Linked DNA regions of Homo sapiens: region 2 is linked to region 1. A link means that fine-mapping ties the variant in region 1 to the expression of a gene that starts in the linked region. Tissue or cell type: whole blood. Region 1 holds a variant in brackets; the other region holds the start of a gene. All regions are shown on one strand. Distances are between the middles of the regions.

Region 1 (8,102 bases):
GCCCCCTTCTGCCTGCCAGGAGTACTCTGTGCAGCCATCCTGTAACTGCTTCAGTCCAGAGAAGGATAGCATCCATCCCTCCCTCCAGCTCGCCTCTCTGCTGAGGCTTTCTCCTCTCCACTCAGCATTTGCAACAGCTTCTCTCCTGGCACTTGTCTGGGAATATCAAGTTAAAAATTACAACACCCAATTTTGATAACTTTAGTTGAGAGAAACAACCTCTAGTGAAGACTGATAAGTAACTTATTGCCCGTAGTCCCATGTTCCTTTGTCTCCACCAAGAGGAATTACCAGCCCAGCAGTTCTGCCCTCACTAGAGTCCCGTCCAGGAGCTTGAGAGGAGAGGATTTTTAGGGCTGGATTGCCTCAGTCTGCACAGTAATAAGTTGAGTTAGACACAGTGGACATGAGGACCTGGACTCAGATATCTGAAGAATCCTTATTATTTTTTTGTTGGCTTGTTTTGAGACAGAGTCACCCTGTTGCCCAGGCTGGAGTGCATTGGCGCAATCTTGGCTCACTGCAACCTCTGCCTCCCAGGTTCAAGTGATTCTTCTTCCTCAGCCTCCCAGGTAGCTAGGATTACAGACATGCGCCACCACGCTCAGCTATTTTTCGTATTTTTAGTGGAGATGGGGTTTCACCATGTTGGTCAGGCTGGTCTTGAACACCAGCCTCAGCCTCCCCAAGTGCTGGGATTACAGGCATGAGCCACCGTGCCCGGCCAAAATCCTTAATGTTTTTGTTTTTTGGTTTTTTTTTTTGAGACAGTCTTGCTCTGTCACCCAGGCTGGAGTGCAGTGGCACAATCTTGGCTCACTGCAAGCTCCGCCTCCGGGGTTCATGCCATTCTCCCGCCTCAGCCTCCCGAGTAGCTGGGACTACAGGCGCCTGCCACCACGCCCGGCTGATTTTTTGTATTTTTTAGTAGAGGCAGGGTTTCACCGTGTTAGGATGGTCTCGATCTCCTGACCTCGTGATCCGCCCGCCTCGGCCTCCCAAAGTGCTGGGATTACAGGCGTGAGCCACCGCGCCCGGGCTATCCTTAATGTTGATATTAGTGGTTAGCACATGTTTTGGAGGAGGACTTCACACTTTTTAAACTATGCTCCCTCGTATTTTCTATAAGCAGTCTTAAATTCTTTCTGGAATAAAGCAAGATTGATCAGTATTTCTCAAGGAGGATTATTTGGCAGGCAGTAGCTACTGCTCAGAGAACTTGGTATTGTTACATGCATCCTGGAAGTATCTGTGCCTATTTCTAGACGGCCTCAGACCACTTTTTTCTGAGTCCTGGACCCTTGAATCTGCAGCCAAGCAAGCTCTTGGGTCCCTCCCAAGTCTCATGTTTAGTAAAGCCCTGTGAGAATAATTTTATTGGTGGAGGAGTCAAGATGATACTTCCCTCACCTGCATCAGAGGAAACCACATCAGAAACAATCCACCTAGAAAAACACTGCATACGGGAAAGCTGACAACTTGCCCTGAGAAATCACAGCTTTGGTGCAAGAGGTGAAGCCGAACTGGTAAAAGATCAAAGTGAATTCAGAGATCAAACTGTACTAGGGAAAGGAGCAGAGGCTGAGATCTTGCTGCCAGCGTGACCTCTCACAGAGTGGCCCAGCAGAGGCTGTGCAGAGATGGCCAGAGCCAGGACCCAGCCCTGTGGAGCCCCTGGGCACATGTGGTCCCGAGTGAAGCCGTGCCTGTTGCTCTGAACAGGTGGGATCAATCTGTAGGTTTTTCCACTTTTCACAGAGTGTGGCTCTCTTTAGGTCTGCACTCCCTCTCTGCGCAGGGCGGACCTCCCTGGGCTCTGCAGCATGATCTCCTGTCCCAAGACAGTCGTGCTCTTGGACAGTTAGCTTCTGTCATTAGGAAGTGCCCACATGAGCTCTTGTTTATTGGAAACCGTGTTCTATGCCTCCTTTGGGGTTTCTGCAACTCAATTTGGCAGGTAGCTTAGTGGTCCACTTGGTCTCAAATTCCAGCTCCACCATGTGCAGTTGTGTGTTCTTTGGCAAGTTCCTCCCCTCCTCCGAATCTGTCAGTGGGGGAAGAGTGCATGTCTCACAGAGTTGAGGTGAGAAATAAGTTAATGAATATGAAATTCTTTGCCCAGCCCCTGGCACGTGGAAGGGCTCAGCAATCCTGTATCCGTTGTAGTGGTCATCACTCTGTGGCTCTTCACTGCTTTTGTTTTGTTTTGGGAGGGGGTGGAGAACAATTTGTTCTGTGTTTGTGTGGGGCAAGGCCTGTCTTCAGGGCTCTCTCCAACCACGTACGCTCTGGCTGGAGCTTCTGAAAGGACACAGTTCTTGCATAGAAGTTGCTTTCTCCAGCTTGCCCACCAGGCAGTCTGGCTTCAGACATCTATGTTGCCCTTTTAAGTCAATTTGGCTGTTTAAGTGGAATGTTTGTGTCAGTCTGATAATTGTTAATTCATTTGATCCTCATACCAACCCTTACTTGCCTCCTTTTACAGATGGAAAAATCAAACTTGGACAGTAATTTCCACAAGGAAAAGCCCCACAGCTGGAAAGCGGTGGGAGCAGGAGGCCACACTGGGTACAGGAGTACCCATCTCCCCACAGGAGCCCCACACTGTCTCACCCTTAGGAAGCCCAAATGCTCACTCCTTGAGTTTCTAATGCATTCTTTCTGATGTACAGGAAGAGGGGAAGGAAGGAAGAGCTTTTCCATTTGGTGCTCCAATGTCTCCTGCTGGACCCATCTGCCTAGTGGAAGGCAGCAAAATTTCAAGAAACAGGTGAGGTTGAGCAGCTTGGTGCAACCCCATGGGGCCTGGAGTTGGAGCTCAACAGCAATGGATTTCAGAGACCACCCTGAAACTCCCAGTAAAAAAGACTTGGGAGACATGTTAATAAACTCAAGCATTTGATCGACCCACTTTTAAGTGTTCCTGTTTGCTTGTTTTTGCATATGGCAGTGAGATTGAGCAGCAGGGAATTGTTTCAGTGGGAAGTGGGAGGACTCTCAAGTCTAGATGTGCCCAGAGGACCCTCCCCTGCCATAGGCCCTGCCGCCTGCTGGGGCCAGTTCCTTCACTGATGGCAGTAGACATAGCCCCTTTCTCCAGGAAAGCCCTTTAGAGGCTGCCCTGCTGAGGCTGCGTGCACTCCCATTCTCACCTCGGCCTGCCCAGCCTAGCTTTCAGTGCCAGTCCCCTTTGGCTTACGCAGGACGAGGATGGCATGTAGAACCCCATCTCCAGCCACCAAGTCCACCCAGCTGCTGCCTTCTCCTACCTTCTGTCCTATTGTTCCCATCTCAGCCCACATGGGGGCCCTTGTTTACACTGGCACCCCCACCCGCTACTACAGGGAGAGGCTGGGGAAGAAGATAGTGGCTGAGCCTGGCCAGATCTCTGGAAGGCCTCTCCCAAGTCTCACGGGCAATAAAGTGACTTCTTGTCTAGCACATGGATTCCCTTCAGGAAGCAATGATGGGAAACCTACAGCCAGGGCTTCTGAGGGGCCCTGGGTGGCTAGAGGTTATTGCTCCACTTCCTCTGGAAAATTTCAGTGAAGATGAAGATGAGTTGATAAACTTTGGAGCTAAACCAAAGATGACTGATTTAGGTAGGAATTCTCATAAAGAGCAGGAAGAGTGCAGGCTGCTGATTTGATATGGAATGCCTTGTGGTTGGAAAATGGATTTAGTTTCTAGTAGAAACCCAGAATATTTTGAGCACGAACAGTTTTGTTTTCATAAATCCCTTTTACATTCTGAGAAAGAAAACAGCACCCCCATACACCTGTCTCTTTGGGAGAACTTTCCTACAATATGATGAAAGTATGCACAAAAGGTTTGAATACATTTTAAGTGTTTATAAGATGATAAAGATATATCTGTGGGTGTCCAATGGAATAAGTTTTCCTTCCCTATCTGTAGTGTCTGATGGACTTGGAAAATGGGAATTATTTTAGAGGGTGGGTGAGACTTGTTTGTTTGTTTGAGGCGGAGTCTTGTTCAGTCACCCAGGCTGGAGTGCAGTGGTGCGATCTCAGTTCACTGCGACGTCCGCCTCCCAGGTTCAAGTGATTCTCCTGCCTCAGCCTCCCAAGTAGCTGGGATTACAGGTGCCCACCACTAGGCCTGGCTAATTTTTTGTGTGTTTTTAGTAGGGATGGGGTTTCAGCATGTTGGCCAGGCTGGTCTCAAACTTCTGGCCTTCAATGAACCAC[C/T]GCCTCAGCCTCCCAAAGTGCTAGGATTACAGGAGACATTTAATTTTATATTCCATAATGCTGATATTTTTCACCATGAGCTTATATAATTAAAAAAAAATTTTTTTTTTTTTTTTGAGACAGAGTGTCACTCTGTTACCCAGGCTGCAGGCTGGAGTGCAGTGGCACGATCGCAGCTCACGCAACCTCTGCTTCATGGGTTCCAGCTATTCTCCCACCTAAGCCTCCCAACTAACTGGGATTACAGGTGTGTGCCACCACGGCTGGCTAACTTTGTGTGTGTGTGTGTGTGTGTGTGTATTTTTTTGAGATGGAGTCTCACTCTGTCGCCTTGGCTAGAGTGCAATGGCGTGATCTCGTCTCACTGCAACCTCTGCCTCCTGGGTTCAAGTGATTCTCCTGCCTCAGCCTCCTGAATAGCTGGAATTACAAGCACGTGCCACCATGCCCAGCTAATTTTTGTATTTTTAGTAGAGACGGTTTCACCATGTTGGCCAGGCTGGTCTCGAACTCCTGACCTCAGGTGATCCGCCCACAGCCTCCCAAAGTGCTGGGATTATAGGCATGAGCCACTGTGCCTGGCCTAATTATGTAATTTTTAAAAACAAGGTTTTTTTAAGTATAGGAAAACTAAAAGACTAGGAAAGATTTGCAGTAAATTCAACAGATGAAGGGAGGTTAAAGTAGGGGAAAATGTTAGGAGAAAATCCAGAAATTCTCTTTGCTCCTGACAGCCCCACTTCACCAATGGTGAGCAGCAGAGGGGCCTGAAAGGGTAGTGGGTTTGAGAGGCCCTGGTGTCCTGTGGGGCCCTGCCACATGCCCTGGTTGCCTCCTGTGTGCGCCGACACTGACCTGGGTGAGACGCCTCACTCCCTGGGCTTCCCTGTCCTTGTCAGTAAAGCAGAGACAGAAACACAACATGCCTCTTGGGTTTCCTGCAAGAGTTAAATGAGCTGCCGTGGAAAGTGCACATGGCAGTCCCTCCCTGAGGCTGGTGTGGCCAGCAGTGGGAGTAGCAGAGGGAGGCTGAAAGGACACGGGAGGCCTCAGGATCCACTCTGTTGTTTCTCCTCATTGGCCATCAGATGTGCTTCCTCTTTGTCACATCTGTATTTTGGAAACGTAAACCCTCCTTTCCATGGAACATGTGCTAAAATAACATTTCTTAGAAAAATTGGTCTCAAGAATATATCGTTCACTCAGTAACAAAGGAGTCAGCAGTGTGACAAATGTCAATTCAAAACGGACCTGAAAACTGAGGTCTGTTTTGGAAACAGGATGCTTATTACATAAGTAATTTGTGAAAAATAAGTTGCTTATTTTGGTAAAGGTCACAGTTTCCTTTTACGTCTATGGTCATAGAAACATTATATGGGTTGTTACGGAGGAAGTCTGGGGCAGGATGGTCCAAGATAACCAGGTGTGTAGACCAGGGGTTGACAAGCTTTTCCTGTACTGAAAAATACAAATATTTTAGGTTTTGAAGACTGTCTGGTCTCTGTCGCAACTGCAGGAGTCCCACCTTATTCATGAGGTTATGCTCCAAGACCCCCCAGTGGATGTCTGAAACCTTGGAAACTGCCAAACCATATATGTATGCTGTTTTTCTCTATACAATCACATAGTATAGGGTGGATCACATATGCGGCGTGGACATGACAGACAAAGGGAATGATTTGTGTCCCAAGTGGGATGGCAGAAGACTACATCACACTGCTCAGAATGGTGTGCAACTTAAAACTTAGGAATTGTTTATTTCTGGAATTTTCCATTGTTTTCTTTCTTTCTTTTTTTTTTTTTTTTTTTTGAGACAGAGTCTCTGTCGCCCAGGCTGGAGTGCAGTGGCATGATCTTGACTCACTGCAACCTCTGCCTCCTGGGTTCAAGTGATTCTCCTGCCTCAGCCTCCCCATTAGCTGGGATTACAGGCCTTGTGCCATCACGCCCAGCTAATTTTTACATTTTTTGTAGAGACGGGGTTTCGCCATGTTGGCCAGTCTGGTCTTGAACTCCTGACCTCCGGTGATCTGCCAGTCTCAGCCTCCTGAAGTGCTGGGATTACCGGCGTGAGCCACCGCATCCAGCCTTAAACAGAATTTAATGAACTGTTAGTTTACAGCATGCAAATTTTTCTCCATTGGTAGTTTTGGAACATACTTGTTTTTCTGCTGCTTTGAGAAATGAGGTGTTCTACTTTTAATCTTCCTGTGTGTTATTTGGACAAGTTACCTTCCCATCCTGAGCCTCAGTTTTTCCATCCATTAGAGAAGATAAGAGGACTACTACTTTCTAATCCTACCTGTGTGGGGAAAATGCTCTTTGCACAGTGCCTGGCATTTAGCAAGTGCTCAACAAATGGTGGCAGCAAGCAAAGTGAAGCTCTCCCTGCCATGCTGGGATCTGATGCCCCTGTTCCTAGCAACAGCTGCCTACAGTGCCGGGGAGCCAGGCCTTGGGCTGTTGCCCTGTCTCTCAGCAGGGCTATGTAAGCATATTGATTTTTGCAAAACCAAGTTCTGGTTCCTTGCTGTGGGGCTGACAAAAAACCATGGGGTCGATCCTCTATAAATATTTTAGCTATGTCCTCTGTTTTTTAAATACAAAATGTGTACTCTAGCCCTTGCCTGTCTGAATTGAAACAAACTCTTTTGAGGTCATGTGCCTCTGGACCCCCACAGCCACACACTGTCAGCGGCAGGCCCCACCCCTGGGACTCATGTCCCACCTCAGTGCCTTCTCTGCCTTTGGAGAAGGAGCTTAGGTCAGGCCCCACACACCTGTCCAGCCCCATGTGTCTCCCCGACCAGCCCTACTGCCAGCAGCGCCCCGTGGGCTGAGCCAGACCTGGGCCAGCCCTCAACCGGCAGAGGGCGCCCGCCCCCAGGCAGTGAGGCTTCTCAGGCTGCTCCCTGAGAAAGGACAGTGTCTTGCATGGGGAGGGGAGAAGGGACAGTGAGGTAACTTCTTCCCAAGGGGTCGCCAGCAGGGACCCCTTTGAGAGTCTGAGGAAAACCTCAGAAAAGGCACAAACTCACAGAAAACGTGAGAGCTGCCCTCTTGGTGCCCCCCTGTCACTAGATGTTGGGGACTCCCAGCTCCCCGGAAGCCCATCTCCCTTCTTAAGGGAAGCAGTGAGGTGAGTCCTCAAGTCCCTTTTCCCCAAAGAAGCTCTGCTGTCTTGCCCCAAAGATTCCTCGATCCCCTCTTGGGGCTGGTCAGATCTGCCCTTGGCTTGAGAAGGGGCTGGGGAGCGAGCCTGCCCCTAAGGAGACTCGGACCTGCAGAACTAAGGGCCACCCCCAGGAGGGAAGGGCTGCCCTCAACACACGTCCCTTCTGGGGCCTGCCTCTGCTCGGCAGGGCAGGGGGTGCCCCATGTGGAGGACTGCTCTAGATGGGCTTTTGTAGGTGAGAAAGGTAAGACCTCAGGCCTACTAGCGCATAGAAGAAAAAGATTCTGGCCGGGCTTGGTGGCCCATGCCTGTAATCCCAGCATTTTGGGAGGCCAAGGCAGGTAGATCACCTGAGGTCAGGAGTTCAAGACTAGCCTGGCCAACATGGTGAAACCCTGTCTCTACTAAAAATACAAAAATTAGCTGGGTGTGGTGCCTGGTGCCTGTAATCCCAGCTACTTGGGAGGCTGAAGCAGGAGAATCACTTGAACCCAGAGGGCAGAGGTTGCAATGAGCCGAGATCACGCCATTGCACTCCAGCCTGGGCAACGGGAGTGAAACTCCATCTCAAAAAAGAAAAAAAAAAAAAGCCTGCTGCCAGGAGGTCTGATGTGGGGCAGGTGGGGTCTAGGGTAGGAGTTCCCTTCCCTGGATGTTTCCTATGCCAGAGGCTAATGGACAAATTTTGAGAAATTGTGATGTTTGGCTTGATATTGGGT
Region 2 (8,102 bases), 98 kb before region 1:
ATTTTTTTTTAAGACAGTGTCTCATTTGTCACCTAGGCTGGAGTGCAGTGGTGCGATCCCGGTTCACCACAACCTCTGCCTCCCGGGTTCAAGCAACTTTCCTGCCTCAGCCTCCCGAGTAGCTAGGATTACAGGCGAATGTCACCACACCTGGCTAGTGTGTGTGTGTGTGTGTGTGTGTGTGTGTGTGTGTGTGCATGTGTGTGAGATGGATTTTTGCTCCTCTCATCCAAGCTGGAGTGCAATGGTGCAATCTTGGTTCACTGCAACCTCCGCCTCCTAGGTTCAAGTGATTCTCCTGCCTTAGCCTCCCGAGTAGCTGGGATTACAGGCACACACCACCACGCTCGGCTACTTTTTGTACTTTTAGTAGAGATGGGGTTTCACCATGTTGGCCAGGCTGGTCTGGAACTCCTGACCTCAGGTGATCCACCCACCTCAGTCTCCCAAAGTGCTGGGATTATAGGCGTGAGCCCCTGTGCCTGGCCTATATTAGTAATTAATTTTACCTCTCATTGCAGTTACTGTTTTTCTATTTACTAACTGGTATTGAAACATTTCAACAGTTAAGCATGTTTAGACACACATGCATATGCACACACAGGACAAATTAAGAACAATGAACATGAATCAAATTGGCAATTTCCAGTGATTTTAGAGGTAAACTAGAAATCTGCCCTGGCCTCCATTCTCAAATGAAGCCTAAATTTGACCTAGGGTGAACACTTCCTGGGGTGCCTATGTGGCCCCTGCTTCTGGGGACTCAGAACACCCACAGGCTTGTGTTGGGGGCAGCCATAGTTACATGATCCTGCCTTCCTCAGTCCCATTCCTGGCTTCCGATGATTGTTCAGGGCCCAGCACCCAGCTGAAGTTAGGTTGATCAGAATCCCCTCCTTAAGAATTTGGTGGCTGGGCCCAGTGGCTCACGCCTGTAATCTTAGCACTTTGGGAGGCCGAGGCAGGCGGGTTACCTAAGGTCAGGGGTTCAAGATCAGCCTGGCCAACATGGTGAAACCCCGCCTCTACTAAAAAAGCAAAAAAAATTTTAGCTAGGTGCAGTGGCACGCAACTGTAATCCCAGCTACTTGGGAGGCTGAGGCAGGAGAATCGCTTGAACCTGGAAGGCGGAGGTTGCGGTGAGCCGAGATCGTAACACTGTACTCCACCCTGGGCGACAGAGCAAGACTTCGTCTCAAAAAAAAAAAAAATTTGGTTTGGAGACTGGGGCTGCCATTGCCACCATGTAGGAGATCTCAGGCAAGAGAACAAAGCAGGGGCACAGACGGAAGGCAGTTCTCTTTGAGATCCTGGTTCTGCGGGTAGTTTGCTTTTGAAGCCCAACTTTGAACTCTGAGAAGCACACCTGTATCTTTATCTACATTCTTTATTTTTCACTTTATCACATTTGACGTTTGCTATTTGCTACCAACATAGTCCTAACTAAACATTTTTTAGCAAAGCACCCCCTGCCTCCTGCCCCCACTTCTTTTCTGACTCTTGAGGTCAGAAATCCTGCACATTTTGCTTTTCAAATGGATATGTCCATGGGGCCCATGTTTGGCCTGTGAATACAGGACACGCATGTCCAAACGAAGGGCCTATTGGAGGTTTCTGAAAAATACCTTCATGTGGCCGGGCGCAGTGGCTCACGCCTGTAATCCCAGCACTTTGGTAGGCCGAGGTGGGCGGATCACGAGGTCAGGAGATGGAGACTGTCCTGGCTAACACGGTGAAACCCCGTCTCTACTAAAAACATACAAAAAATTAACCGGGCGTGGTGGCGGGTGCCTGTAGTCCCAGTTACTCCGGAGGCTGAGGCAGGAGAATGGCGTGAACCCGGGAGGCAGAGCTTGCAGTGAGCTGAGATCGTGCCACTGCACTCCAGTCTGGGCGACAGAGCAAGACTCCGTCTCAAAACAAACAAACAAACAAACAAAAAACCTTCATGTGGCTAGGTGAGGTGGCTCACACCTATAATCCCAGCACTTTGGGAGGCCGAAGTGGGCGGATCGCTTGAAGTTGGGAGTTTTGAGACCAGCCTAGCCAACATGGTGAAACCCCACCTCTACTAAAAAAAAAAAAATTAGCCGGGCATGGTGGTGCAGGTCTGCAATCCCAGATACTTGGGAGGCTGAGGCAGGAGAATCACTTGAACCCAGGAGGCGGAGGCTGCAGTGGGCCGAGATCATGCCATTGCACTCCAGCCTGGGCAACAGAGCAAGACTCTGTCTCAAAACAAAAAACAGGCCGGGCGTGGTGGCTCACGCCTGTAATCCCAGCACTTTGAGAGGCCGAGACAGGCTGATCCCTTGAAGTTGGGAGTTTGAGACCAGCCTGGCCAACATGGTGAAACCCCATCTCTACTAAGATACAAAAATTAGCTGGGCGTGGTGGTGCGTGCCTGTAATTCTAGCTGCTTGGGAGGCTCAGGCAGCAGAATCACTTGCACTTGGGAGGCAGAGGTTGCAGTGAACCAAGATTGTGCTACCGCACTCCAGCCTGGGTGACAGAGTAAGATTCTGTCTCAAAAAAAAAAAAAAAAAAAAAAGTAAACAAAAAAATAGACTGTAGAGAATCTTTCAGTGAGGTAAGGAATCATCTCCATCCATTTTTGGGTGTATGTGCAAACTTGCTTAAGTTGCTGTCAACTTTTGAAGGCTCCAGATTTTCAGTGTCTAACACAACCACCTGGGCCAGATGTAAGTAAGGACAGGATAACGTAAGCGTGCACAGTAGCAGAAGCAGAAACTCAAGGCCCTACGTTTTGAGCGTGTGAGGAAGGAGCGTTCTCTCAGAATCCTGGAGCTGACTCTGTCATGGTTCAGAGATCAGCTTGCAGGGACAGGCAGTGGCAGTCGAGGTGGTGACAGACCCCAAAAGCACATACCCTATACAACCGAACACACACTCAAGTGTGGAGCCTGCGTATTCCATGGTAGTTTCAAGCATATTGTTTATTAAATGGTTTCATAAGACACTTCTTTGCGGGAAACCTGACAATCTGTTCCTTGTCACTTGGACAGCTTTAACAATCAGGTAGAAAAGAAAGCTCCCTTCGGCCATGTGAAGTAAGCCCGAGGTCAAACTAGCCTGACACTAGGAGCTCCCAGGAGAACCTTGAAAACGTGTGCGATTCTGAGTCGGTGTGCAGAAACGATTCTCTGCGAAGAGGGCCCTGAGCTGTCACCAGCTTCTCGCAGTCAAGGGACCCCCAAAAGGTGCAGAATCCCGCCTGTCACCGTCCCTCTAGGGATCCTAAGCGAGTAAACCCCGAGAGGCGTCCGAAGGCTGGCAGTTTGGCAGCGTGAACTCTGGTTTTCCAGAGCGCGGGCAAAGCCTGGAGTAGCAGTTGCTCCTTTGCTCTGGCAGGAATCTGGGGGTCTACCCTGCGCAGATAATCCCGTCCTGCCTGCAGCTGGGGTTCAAGACCCGCTTCTCTGAAGTCCGCCTCCCAGCGGCCTGGAGCCCGGGGCGTGGTCGGCTCGAATCTGCTCCCCAGGCCCAGAACGGAGCCCGCAGCCCGTAACCCGCTGTGGCCGCAGCGGGTCGCGCCCTTCGTCCCCGCCTCAGGAGCGGCCGAGGATCTGCCCAGCTGCGGGCGCCAAGCCCTGGCCGCACTCCTTTCCCCGGCGGAGGGAGCCGGCTGGCGCTGCGGCCTTCAAGGCGCGCGGACGTCGCGGAGGGCAGCCAGTCGCGCGGGAGCGGGTAGCGCGCGCGAGGGCGTTGGGCGCCGCCGCGAGGCGGGGAAGCGCGGGGCCGCGGCGGTGCGGGTTCTAGGGCGGCGGCCGTCGCCGTCGCAGCAGCGCCCCGAGCGGGGAGGGCCGAGGAGGCCCGACGAGCTGGGGATGGAGAGTACCGGGCCCCTCACTGCCTCAGAGCGCGTGTGCGGCTCTGGGCGCGCACAGTGACGGTGACGGCACCCCTGGCCCGGCAGCGCCGAGGCCGCTTCGCCAGACAGCCAGCGGCCGGCGGCAGGCCGGGCCATGAGCGGCAGGGGCCGGGCCGGGCCTCGCTGACCCTGGCTCCGCGCGGCAGCTTCCCCAGTTTCCGCTCCGGTCTCTCGGCATGAGAGTCCGCCCGGGCCCGGGGCTGCGGCTGCCCCAGACCCGCCGCACGCTGGCGCGCTCCGGGCCCGCGGAGCCGCGGTGCTGATACCTGCGCCGCACTGCGCCGCCCGCCCGTCCGCTGTGTGCCCCGGGGGCGCGGCCATGGAGGTGGTGGGTGACTTCGAGTACAGCAAGAGGGATCTCGTGGGACACGGGGCCTTCGCCGTGGTCTTCCGGGGGCGGCACCGCCAGGTGAGCGCCGGCCGGGGCGAGGCCGGGCCCCGGGCGGCAGGCACGGGGCTAGGTGGTTCTGAAACTTGGCGCAGCCGCGAGCCGAGACCCCCGACTCGGCTAGCCGCCCGGGTATGCTATTGTGCGCGCAGCCCGTCTCGCCGTTTGTTTTGGTCCTGTGAGGGTTGTTGTGAGGCCCAAGCCTCTGGCAGCGCTCCGCCTACCGACCGGCTGCTGCTGATCCTCCTGTGTGCCCGGGGCCCACCCCGCGGTCCGCCCGCAGGAGCGTTTGCACCCAGGTTACCCTGGACCCAAAATAGACGGTACTGCACCGTGCAGACTCGAGGGTTGGGCGTGAATGGACCTTTGGTTTTTTTCCCCGTGCCCAGGGCTGGTCACTTTTGAGGTTGATAATTACAGACCCAGCGGAAAATGGGCGGATGTCCCATTAGCCTCAGGCTTTCGCAGCCTGGGAGGTGTCACCTTTCCCAGCACTGGTCCCCTGCACCCCGAAGAGCCCCCGTACCGTTTTCCCCCCCGGAGTCAGATAGACGAGCTCCGGGTGAGAAAGGTGGTTGGACAATTCATTTTCAATCACCTTGAACATGAAATCACCTTTAAGCCTTAAAAAAATTGTTTTAAGCCTTTGCTGTTTCGCAAGTACAGTTACACGAGGTTTTAGAATCTAAAGAATTTGGAAAGGCATATCGGGAGTGGAAATAATCTTAAAGGGTGTGGCAGTTCTGATTGTTGCCCAAGGGGCGTGTTAAAAGTGGGCTGACTTTGTTGCTTATCGGATGAAGTAATGCTACTTTTCTTATTTATTTATTTATTTATTTTTGAGACAGAGTCTCGCTTTGTCGCCGAGGCTGGAGTGCCGTGGCGAGATCTCCGCTCACTGCAACCGCTGCCTCCCGGGCTCAAGCGATTCTCCTGCCTCAGCCTCCTGAGTAGCTGGGATTACAGGTGCCCGCCACCACGCCCGCCTAATTTTTTTTTTTTTGTATTTTTAGTAGAGATGGGGTTTCACCACGTTGGCCAGTGTGGTCTTGAACTCCTGACCTCAGGTGATCCGATCTGCCCGCCTCAGCCTCCCAAAGTGCTGGGATTACAGGTGTGAGCCACGGCTCCCGGCCTACTTTTCATTTATTAGGAAAATAATTTAGAACTCAAGCACGGTGTAATCCTTCCAAGCTAACAAATAACTTTTCAATTAACTGTATCACCTTCCAAGTTTATTTCTACATTTGTCCATAACTTTGAAGTGGTTGTGAACTGTTCTTTTTTCATTTAATGTTAGTTACCATGTGGACTTCATATTTGTTATTTTTAGAAGTTGTGTTGTAGGATCTTGGCATATTGCACTATAATTTATGAAATCACTTTCCAATTATTGAAAATAATTCCATTTTTCCCCAATGCCGTACATTTATTTGCCAAAAACACCTTCGCGCTTGTAAATTTTTTTCTGTTATTTATGTGGAATGGTATCTAGGAGTAACACTGTTTTTCCTTTTCAGAAAACTGATTGGGAGGTAGCTATTAAAAGTATTAATAAAAAGAACTTGTCAAAATCACAAATACTGCTTGGAAAGGAAATTAAAATCTTAAAGGTATGTTACTTTATGTAGTAGTATTCATATAAGGTTAAAACTTAATTTAAATGAATACATGCTGCCATCCTTTTCAATTTTGGTAGTTGGGTCCAAGTTTGAGAATTTTCAACTGTTGCTCTCCTTTTTGCATGCTCACTTTTTTAAAACATTGAGTACTCGGAAGCTATTTTTAAGAACCAAAGCTCAGAGGGATTCTGTGAAGACTGAGTTTAGCTTCTCATCATTTCTCTTTTTCCTAGTGACTGTGTTGTTGTTTGAGAAGAGGGCCAGGCAGACCCATCTTGTACATTGTTTTTACCTCTCCTGTTGTCCCCTTTCATGTTACTACTAAGTTTTTTGGGGGGAGTAGGGGTGCTTGGGGTCTTTCTTTAAATTGAAGAAAGTTATATTCCTTGGAGGTGGCCTTTTTAGATCACTCACAACCAGTGTTATCTAAGTGGGATGGTTTGAGAAGATGGTTGAGTACGTTTGGAAAACCCCATTTACTAAATACTTCTTGGAGAGTCACAAAGCCTATGGCTCATTAAAGAAAGTCTGAAAAATTCTACAATGAAGAAACTTGTTTCAAAGTACTTAACCTGGTGTTTTCCAAACTAATACAAGCGTGGAACCCTCATTTAACACCCGATTTCCTCAAAACTGCTTCCTGTGGAGAGCTCTTTTTTAAGAATTGTAGCTCTTTGAGCTAAAAATCATATTTTCTTTCAGTGAGATAATGTGCTTTTTGTTTGATCAGGCACATTTCTTATTCTTTAATTGAATTTTTATAGTCTTAATATAAGTATAATACTAGAAGTGTATGTGTATACTTTAATTTTATTTACATATTAAAATATAGTAAAGTCATTAGAATACTTACATATTTTTCATTCTCAATTTTCTTAATAGGAACTTCAGCATGAAAATATTGTAGCACTCTATGATGTTCAGGTACCTTATTTTGAAAATTTTTAAAAATTAAAATAAATTTTTTTTAATTTCATACAGATTTAAGTGACTCTTAATAGAAATAAAAATGACCTTAATTCTTGTTGAAAAGATGCATAGCTTGAGTTACATGTTTCTGAATTAAGAAATTGTTTAAAACAGAACAGAGTAATAGGCTGAAAGAATTTGCTGCATGAGTAAGTTTATTAACAATTGATAATACACTATAGGTGTAGCATTGTTTTAGGTGAAGTAGAGGACTGTTGATACCAGATCTAGCATTCTCTGATGAATGTTGAAAGGACAATTAAAAATAGAGCTTTTTTTTTTTTTGATGGAGTCTCACTCTGTCTCTTGGGCTGCAGTGCAGTGGCTTGATCTCGGCTCACTGCAACTGCTACCTCCCGGGTTTAAGCGATTCTCCTGCCTCAGCCTCCCGAGTAGCTAGGACTATAGGTGTGCACCACCATGCCCAGCTAATTTTGTGTGTGTGTGTTTTTCATAGAGATGGAGTTTCACCATGTTGGCCAGGCTTGTCTCGAACTCCTGACCTCAAGTCATCCTCCCACCTTGGCCTCCCAAAGTACTGGGATTACAGGCGTGAGCCACTGCGCCCCGCCTAAATAGAAGTTCTTTTTTTAAAAAAACATTTTTTTTATTTTGTAGAGATAGGGTCCCTCTGTGTTGCTCAGGCTAGTCTTGAACTCCTGGGCTCAAGGGATCCTTCTGCCTCAGCCTCTCAAAGTGCTGGGATTACAGATGTGAGCCACCACACATGGCCTACATAGTGCTTTTTCTTCTTATGAAAGCAATATTTGTAAATTGAAAAAATATTAGAAAATAAATTAAAAACAAGGTCACTATGCATGTTCATCACCCAGTTATATCTATGATTATAGGTTATAGATATATTTGTGTATGCTATGGCATGCAGTAGAGTTGCATTTTATTTGGAATGGGAAGTAGGTTCTAAAGTCAATCACTAAGGCAAAATTTCTGTATAGTCAAAATTACTCTTGGAAATCCTTTTCAGATCTCAGCATTGGAGAAAATTGCTGTTTTCTGGGTGTAGCACCAGATGAAGTAGCTGGCTTATATTTAGGGCCATATTATGTTAAAAAATCCTTCAAATGCAAGAATCAGGCTGGGTGTGGTGGCTTGAGCCTGTAATTCTTGCTACTCAGGAGGCTGAGGCAGGAAGATCGCTTGAGCACAGGAGTTCAAGGCTGCAGTGAGCTGTGATCCTGCCACTGAAGTCCTGCCTGGACAACAGAGCAAG

What was found. PIP is the estimated chance that this variant, and not a neighbour inherited with it, causes the effect.
Region 2: it holds the start of ULK2, and the variant in region 1 is fine-mapped to the expression of ULK2 in whole blood (TOPMed, PIP 0.98).

Annotation. Positions count from the first base shown.
Region 1 is chr17:19,765,638-19,773,739 of GRCh38, reverse strand. It overlaps ULK2 (unc-51 like autophagy activating kinase 2), which reads left to right. Exons shown (of 27, transcript NM_014683.4): 27 at 1-2,910. Among named protein-coding and RNA genes, the nearest start is that of ALDH3A1, 21 kb to the right of the region's middle. RefSeq lists an enhancer at 6,827-6,976. The variant C/T (reference allele first, on the strand shown) is at 4,209.
Region 2 is chr17:19,863,527-19,871,628 of GRCh38, reverse strand. It overlaps ULK2 (unc-51 like autophagy activating kinase 2), which reads left to right and starts at 3,693. Exons shown (of 27, transcript NM_014683.4): 1 at 3,693-4,301; 2 at 5,801-5,893; 3 at 6,785-6,826. The coding sequence starts at 4,212. RefSeq lists silencers at 3,640-4,229, 4,310-4,489 and an enhancer at 4,068-4,576.